2 linked regions of the Homo sapiens genome follow. The protein of the gene in region 2 purifies or fractionates together with the protein of the main gene of each other region. This does not show direct contact. Each region holds a gene or a part of one and is shown on either strand. Other genes may lie near its edges.

Region 1 (3,815 bases), on a different chromosome or scaffold from region 2:
GGCCTAGAGGCACTTGGATTCATCCTGGGTGTGAGGAAGAGGCTTTTTGGAGGGTGAAGCAGAAGAGGTGATGTGACCTGATATGATATGTTTTTAGAAGGATGATGCCAGGTGCTCTATAGAGATTGGATTGAGGCCAGGCACAGTGGTTCACACCTGTAATCCCAGAACTTTGAAAGGCTGAGGCGTGTGGATCACCTGAGGTCAGGAGTTCGAGACCAGCCTGGCCAACATGGTGAAACCCCATCTCTACTAAAAATACAAAAATTAGCCAGGCATGGTGGTGGGCAACTGTAATCCCAGCTACTCGGGAGGCTGAGGCAGGAGAATCGCTTGAACCAGGGAGGCGGAGGTTGCAGTGAACCGAGGTTGTGCCACTGCACTCCAGCCTGGGTGACAGAGCGAGGTTCCGTCTCAAAAAAAAAAAAAAAAGAGATTGGATTGGAGGCAGGGAGGGCTGGAGTCTTCCACACAGGAGGTGGTGTGAGCTGTGCCAGGGCTGAGGTGGGTGGAGGGAGTGAGGAGAGGGAGGGATTGTTGAGGCAGTGGGGAGCTATAGTGAGTCTCAGGGATGACTCCCCCCAGCTCACGCTGGTGGGATGGACAGGTGGTGGGTATCCATCTGAGAGATGGAGAGCCCTCTGCAAATCCAGCATGTCCTGGTTCCAGGTGGGGCCGGGGTGGTGAGGAGCTGGGCTGGTGGGCGGCCTCGGTGACAGAGCCTCGCCGCCCCAGCGGGGCAGCTGGCTGGGACCTCGTCGGTGGAGATGTACCGCCAGGCACTACTATGGGGCTGCCGCTGCGTGGAGCTGGACGTGTGGAAGGGACGGCCGCCTGAGGAGGAACCCTTCATTACCCACGGCTTCACCATGACCACAGAGGTGCCTCTGCGCGACGTGCTGGAGGCCATTGCCGAGACTGCCTTCAAGACCTCGCCCTACCCCGTCATCCTCTCCTTCGAGAACCATGTGGACTCGTGAGTGAGCCCCTGGCATGAAACCCCATGGACCGGGGGACAGTCTTCCAGCTTCAGTGCTGTTGGACTGCTCAGGGACCTCCAACCCTGCGAACGGCCACTGACATGTCCCGTAGACCTCAGCTTCCTCTCTGGGGGAGGGATCTCTGACCTCTGACCTCGGTTCCGCAGGGCAAAGCAACAGGCAAAGATGGCTGAGTACTGCCGCTCCATCTTTGGAGACGCGCTACTCATCGAGCCTCTGGACAAGTACCCGGTACGGGAGCTCGGAGCGAGGGGGGTGGCATGGGGGCCAGGGTGCTGCGGACCCGGTCCAGGGCCCTGACTCGTCCATGCCTGCCCAGCTGGCCCCAGGCGTTCCCCTGCCCAGCCCCCAGGACCTGATGGGCCGTATCCTGGTGAAGAACAAGAAGCGGCACCGACCCAGCGCAGGTGGCCCAGACAGCGCCGGGCGCAAGCGGCCCCTGGAGCAGAGCAATTCTGCCCTGAGCGAGAGCTCCGCGGCCACCGAGCCCTCCTCCCCGCAGCTGGGTAGGCCCCAGCCCGGCCCGCCACCCTGACTTGACCCTAGCCTCTGGCCTCATGCTCCAGGCGCCGTGACACTTCATCCCAGACCCCCAGCCCACCCTCCTGCCTCGCTGTGCGCCTGTTCCCACAACCGGCCTGTCTCCTCACCACCTGTCGGCTGGTGTGGGGCCTCTGACCCCTGACCTCAGGTGCACGTCTCACCCAGCTGCACCCCAACTCCTGACTCCCAACCTCAGCCTCTCACCTCTCAGAGCCTTCCCACAACCCGGTGATGGCTCTGAAGGCTGACCTCTGACCTCAGTAAACCACATCCCACACTGGGTGTGACCTCAGACCCCTAAGCCCGCATTGAGTTCACCTGCCCAGTTGGTTATCATTTCAGCTGACCTCTGACCTCTCACCCCTGACTGTTCACCTCACTATGCCCCCTCCTTAGACATGGCTCTGACTTACCCCTGACCTGTAACCTCTCTATGTCATCCCTTACCCCGCTATTAGGGCTGTGGTATGCTACTTCCTGACTTCTCACCCCACTGAACCACCCTATCTGCCTCCCTGCTGAATATCACTGCAGACCTTTACCTTTGACCTATGACCCCTCTCAACCCATACTGGGTTAATACCATCTGACCTCGACCTCTTGGCCTCTCCCCAAGCCACACTGCCCTGAGAGTACCCCTTGAATTCCCCACTGAGTCACCTCGGCACACACTGGGAAAAACCCCTCCAGACTTCCTAAGCAGCTGTGTGGTCCTGACCCCTCACCCTGTGGCCCTGTCCTCTGCAGGGTCTCCCAGCTCTGACAGCTGCCCAGGCCTGAGCAATGGGGAGGAGGTAGGGCTTGAGAAGCCCAGCCTGGAGCCTCAGAAGTCTCTGGGTGACGAGGGCCTGAACCGAGGCCCCTATGTTCTTGGACCTGCTGACCGTGAGGATGAGGAGGAAGATGAGGAAGAGGAGGAACAGACAGACCCCAAAAAGCCAACTACAGATGAGGTCAGGCCCACAGGGTGGGCAGGTCGGGGAGGTAGCATCTATTTACCTCCCAGGGGGCTGGGTCTGACCATCAACAAGACTGACATCACCCCTGCCTCCTGGGGCTCAGTGTGGGTGTGAGTGAAGGTGGGAGGAGGGCTCTTCAGTCATCAGGCATGGAAACAAGCATACAGTTCTGCTGGTGATGTGGCCTGGGAGGTGCGAGTTAGGGTACAGAACTGGCAGAGGATAGGGAGTCTACCCTGGGCAGGGAGGTGGGGCAGGGAGACCTCAGGAAGGGGGACAGCATGTACAAAGGTCCTGGGGCAGGGCCAGGGGGTGCAGGAGCGGGGAGCATTGTCATGGGGAGCATTGAGTAGCTGTGAGGAATGGTACAGAAAAAATCAGTCTGAGCTGGGCGTGGTGGCTCACACCTGTGATCCCAGCTACTCGGGAGGCTGAGGCATGAGAATCCCTTGAACCTGGGAGGTGGAGGTTGCAGTGAGCTGAGATTGCACCATTGCACTCCAACGTGGGCTAAAAAGGGAGACACTATCTCAAAAAAAAAAAAAAAAAAAAAAGACATCATTGCTATAAAGACAATTACTGGAGCAATTAGTGAAATTTAAAGATGGACTACATATTAGATAATATGTTAATGTTTTGTTTCCTGAATTTAATTATTGTATTGGAGTTATAGAAGAGAATGTCCATATATGCTGAAGTATTTATGGGTAAAGGGTCATGATGTCTATAATTTACTCCCAAATGATTCAGTAAAAGTAATGATAATTATAACACCTATATGGGCCAGGCGAGGTGGCTCATGCCTGTAATCCCAGCACTTTGGGAGGCTGAGGTGGGCGAGTCACCTGAGGTTGGGAGGTTCCAGACCAGCCTGGCCAACATGGTGAAACCCCATCTCTACTAAAAATACATAAATTAGCCGGGCAAGGTGGCGGGCGCCTGTAATCCCAGCTACTTGGGAGGCTGAGGCAGGAAAATTGCTTGAGCTGGGTGGTGTCCAGGGCGCATCAGTGAGACCCCGGGGAGAAGACTGTCGGCACCACCAGCAGTGTGTATATAGTGCTGGGAAGAGGGTCAGCACCTCCTTCATGGGGGGCAGGTGAGGGAATGGCCAGCTGTGGCGGGAATGGCACTGCTGACCCTGGGTTGGGGCCCACAGGGCACAGCCAGCAGCGAGGTGAATGCCACTGAGGAGATGTCCACGCTTGTCAACTACATCGAACCTGTCAAGTTCAAGTCCTTTGAGGCTGCTCGAAGTGAGTGGGGGTGGGTGGCAGGCATGGGAGCTTGCCCAGCTCAGCCCTGCCAGGTC
Region 2 (3,815 bases):
GAATGACAAACGTTCAACACAACCATAGGAAAATTTCAAAAATATATACCAAATGTCTAGCCTAGAACTTTTTGAAGCTTAAAATTAGAAAATAAAGCCTTTACTCTGAGCTGATTACCAAGCGTTGCTTAAGTGACTCTCAGCTTACCTGGTTCGTATAAAAGAGGCACATGCTTTCAGCTGAGTCTCTATCAACACTGTTTCTCTCTTTTCTGCCATACAGTTTTGGATATTTGTCAGAGCTTTCTCATTTTTCTGGCTATTACTGCTATTCGCTTCCACAGAAAATAAAGAGCTCTCAGGCAAGGTTTCAGGAAAACACAAAAGACAGTCTTTTCCTGAGTGTGGAAAGAAGGATTTGATAGTTTTGTCACTTGAGGTGAAACTGTGCTGTTTCTGAGATGACGCAAGTGCTGCTGAAAGAGCTGGCCCCAGATTCAGGTAAGCCTCTGCCAATTTGCCCCAGTTCCAAGGATTAAAAGGATGCAAAGAAATCAGTTTCTGCAGGCAGAAAATTGTTTTCTCCAAGTTCTGCAAACTTGAACAAATAGCAAGCTGGAGGTAGAGTACCGTGGTTAAATGGTCTGTGTTGGTTGCTTTATTTTCCTAAGGAGAAAAAAAAAAGGTTAAGAAGTTTAAACTTCAAAGCATTTTCCATATAAAATGAGAATGCCTAAAAAACCAAGTTGTATATGTTATAAATTAGAAGTATCTTTCAGTAGCTATACGAGTGACCTAAATATATTTCAATATATCTCATGTTTGAAACCGTAAACCCAGAGAGATATATGCTACCTAGAGAAAGAGTCACCAGCCATTCCCAAACATCCTAATGTCATAATAACTTAACAATTCCTAGATGGTGGCCTGCCAAATGTTCAGCATCAAAAACATAAATATCCATTTATTTCCAATTTTTATTATAATCTTTACTGTCTTCAGCCAGGTATCTGAAAGACCCAGCCACTTTTCTTAGATCCTGGCCTAATGATTCCATTGTAATATTCAAGGCTTTCTAAAAATCCAAATGGTAATTTCCTTGAGGATTTGAACAAACTCCACTTCCAAATTTTATTTGGCTTAGACATTTTAAACAGGATAGCCCTGAAGCTCTCCATGCTTCATGACGCATTCTAATTGAATCCAAATGCCTTCCCTGGTAACCATTACCAAGGTCAATTATAATTTTTGGCCAAAAGGGGTTGCTTAGTTTCCTTTTGATCAGAAAATCCTTTTCAAATCTCCTTAACCAGCGCCAACATCTCTTGCCTAACTTGCCATATGGCAAATGTCCTCTGGGTTAGTAAAAACAGGCCTGCTTTTTGTAAGTTGAAGTTTGCGGAGAGCAGATGGCAGACTCAAATTACCTTCAAGTTGATGTGAGGTCTAAGGAAAGCCTGGCCTGCAAGCGTCCAGATCAGGCTCCCTCACAGAACCACACTGAGCATGAAACATGAGCAAAACTACCTGGTGTACGGCCCCAGGAAACTGTACACCAGCAAGTGAAGGCCTGCGGGCAGCTCTAAATATTCCCACATTGAGTGAAAAGATAGGAGATAAAGCCCCATACGACTGATTTGCTGACACTGTACCTTCCCAAAGACAGAACACATCTCGTTTTATTGTTACTATTGTTCAGCATCTGTCCTTCCCAACAGACCATTTAGCTCCATAAGAGCTTTTGTTCAATGTAAATTCCTAGTACAGAGCACAGCTCCTCGGCCATCACAGATGTTAAATCACGTTTGAGTAATGACTTTTCTAAAGTCAAATCATGTCATTTATAAGGAAAACAACATGTATAGACTACATCTGTAACAAATGCTACCCTTCTTCTGTAACCAGTCTATAGGGCTTTATATTGTTCAAAAACTTTTTTTTTTTTTGAGACAGAGTTTCGCTCTCGTCGCCCAGGCTGGAGTGCAATGGTGCGATCTCAGCTCACCGCAACCTCTGCCTCCCTGGTTCAAGCAATCCTCCTGCCTCAGCCTCCGGAGTAGCTGGGATGACGGGTGCCTGCCACCACACCCAGCTAATTTTTGCATAAAGTAAAGACAGGGTTTTGCCATGTTGGCCAGGCTGGTCTCGAACTCCTGACCTCAAGTGATCCACCCCCTTCGGCCTCTGAAAGTGCTGGGCTTACAGGCATGAACCACTGTGCCCAGCCTCAAAAACATTTTGATATTGATAAAGCAAGTGTGTGTTAGGGTGGAGGCTGTTACTCACAAACTATGATCCTGATGACAGGGTTTTGTTTGTTTGAGATGGAGTCTCATTCTTTTGCCCAGGCTGGAGTGCAGTGGCGTGATCTCGACTCACTGCAATCTCCACCTCCCAGGTTCAAGCAGTCCTCCCACCTCAACCTCCCAAGTAGCTGGGACTACAGGTGCCCACCACCACACCAAGAGAGTTTTTAAAATTGTTATTAGGGATGCGGTTTCACCATGTTGGCCAGGCTGGTCTTGAACTCCTGACCTTCGCCCACCTCGGCCTCCCAAAGTGCTGGGAATACAGGCATGAGCCACTGCGCCCTGTCAATAGTAGGGTTTTGAGAGGTGGATTAGTAAACTCCTTCTGGAAATTAAATTCTATTTAGGCCGGGCGTGGTGGCTCACATCTGTAATCCCAGCACTTTGGGAGGCCAAGGCGGGCGGATCATGAGTTCAGGAGATCGAGACCATCCTGGCTAACATGGCGAAACCCCATCTCTACTAAAAATACAAAAAATTAGCTAGGTGTGGTGGCGGGCACCTGTAGTCCTAGCTACTCAGGAGGTTGAGGCAGGAGAATGGCATGAACCCGGGAGGCAGAGCTTGCAGTGAGCCAAGATCATGCCACTGCACTCCAGCCTGGGCAACAGAACGAGACTTCATCTCAAAAAAAAAAAAAAAATCTATTTAAATGAGTGAGTGATTTTTCCAGAATACTGCAACTCTTTCTGTAACAATAACATGATGATGACAGTTAACATTTACTGAGTGTTTACGCAGTGCCAGGCACTATTCTAAGTGTTTTCCTCATTTAATCCTCCTGACAGTGCTTTAAAATAGATTCAGTAATTTTCCTTATGTTACAGATAAGGCAACTGGGTCACAGAGAGGTTAGATAACTTGCCTGCCATAACGTGGCTGGTAAGCAGGAGAGCTACAGTCAGTTATACTAAAAGTCAAGGAATAAAAGGTACTTACGAAGAGCTGATATGGCCAGGCAAGGTGGCTCACCCCTGTAATCTCAGCACTTTGGGAAGCCGAGGTGGGCAGATCACTTGAGGTCAGGAGTTCAAGATCAGCCTGGCCAACATGGTGAAACCCTGTCTCTATTAAAAATACAAAAAAGGCTGGGCGCATTGGCTCATCCCTATAATCCTAGTACTTCGGGAGGCTGAGGCGGGTGGACTGCCTGAGCTCAGGAGTTCGAGACCAGACTGGACAACATGATGAAACCCCGTCTCTACTAAAATACAAAAAATTAGCCAGATGTGGTGGCGGGCACCTCTAATCCCAGCTACTTGGGTGGCTGAGACAGGTGAATCGCTTGAACCCAGGAGGCGGAGGTTGCAGTGAGCCAAGATCGCGCCACTGCACTCCAGCCTGGGCGACAGTGCGAGACTCCATCTAAAAAACAAAAAAACAAAAACAAAAACAAAAAAACAAAAAAAAATGTAGCCAGGTGTGGTGACACATGCCTATAATCCCAGCTACTTGGGTGGCTGAGACAGGTGAATTGCTTGAACCTGGGAGGAGGAGGCTGCAGTGAGCCAAGATCGCACCACTGCACTCCAGCCTGGGCAACAGAGCAAGACTCCATCTCAAAAA

What was found.
Region 1: the proteins of C8orf76 (region 2) and PLCB3 purify together in Homo sapiens (affinity purification with mass spectrometry; one large-scale study listed by BioGRID and IntAct). This does not show direct contact.

Annotation. Positions count from the first base shown.
Region 1 is NC_000011.10:64,257,738-64,261,552, forward strand, and holds part of PLCB3 (1-phosphatidylinositol 4,5-bisphosphate phosphodiesterase beta-3), read left to right. Parts: intron 1-735; coding exon 736-976; intron 977-1,147; coding exon 1,148-1,232; intron 1,233-1,320; coding exon 1,321-1,507; intron 1,508-2,291; coding exon 2,292-2,497; intron 2,498-3,662; coding exon 3,663-3,759; intron 3,760-3,815. UniProt on the Homo sapiens protein: Catalyzes the production of the second messenger molecules diacylglycerol (DAG) and inositol 1,4,5-trisphosphate (IP3).
Region 2 is NC_000008.11:123,231,152-123,234,966, forward strand, and holds part of C8orf76 (uncharacterized protein C8orf76), read right to left. Parts: intron 607-3,815; coding exon 149-606; intron 1-148. Other genes in the region: ZHX1-C8orf76 (zinc fingers and homeoboxes protein 1), read right to left, coding at 149-606.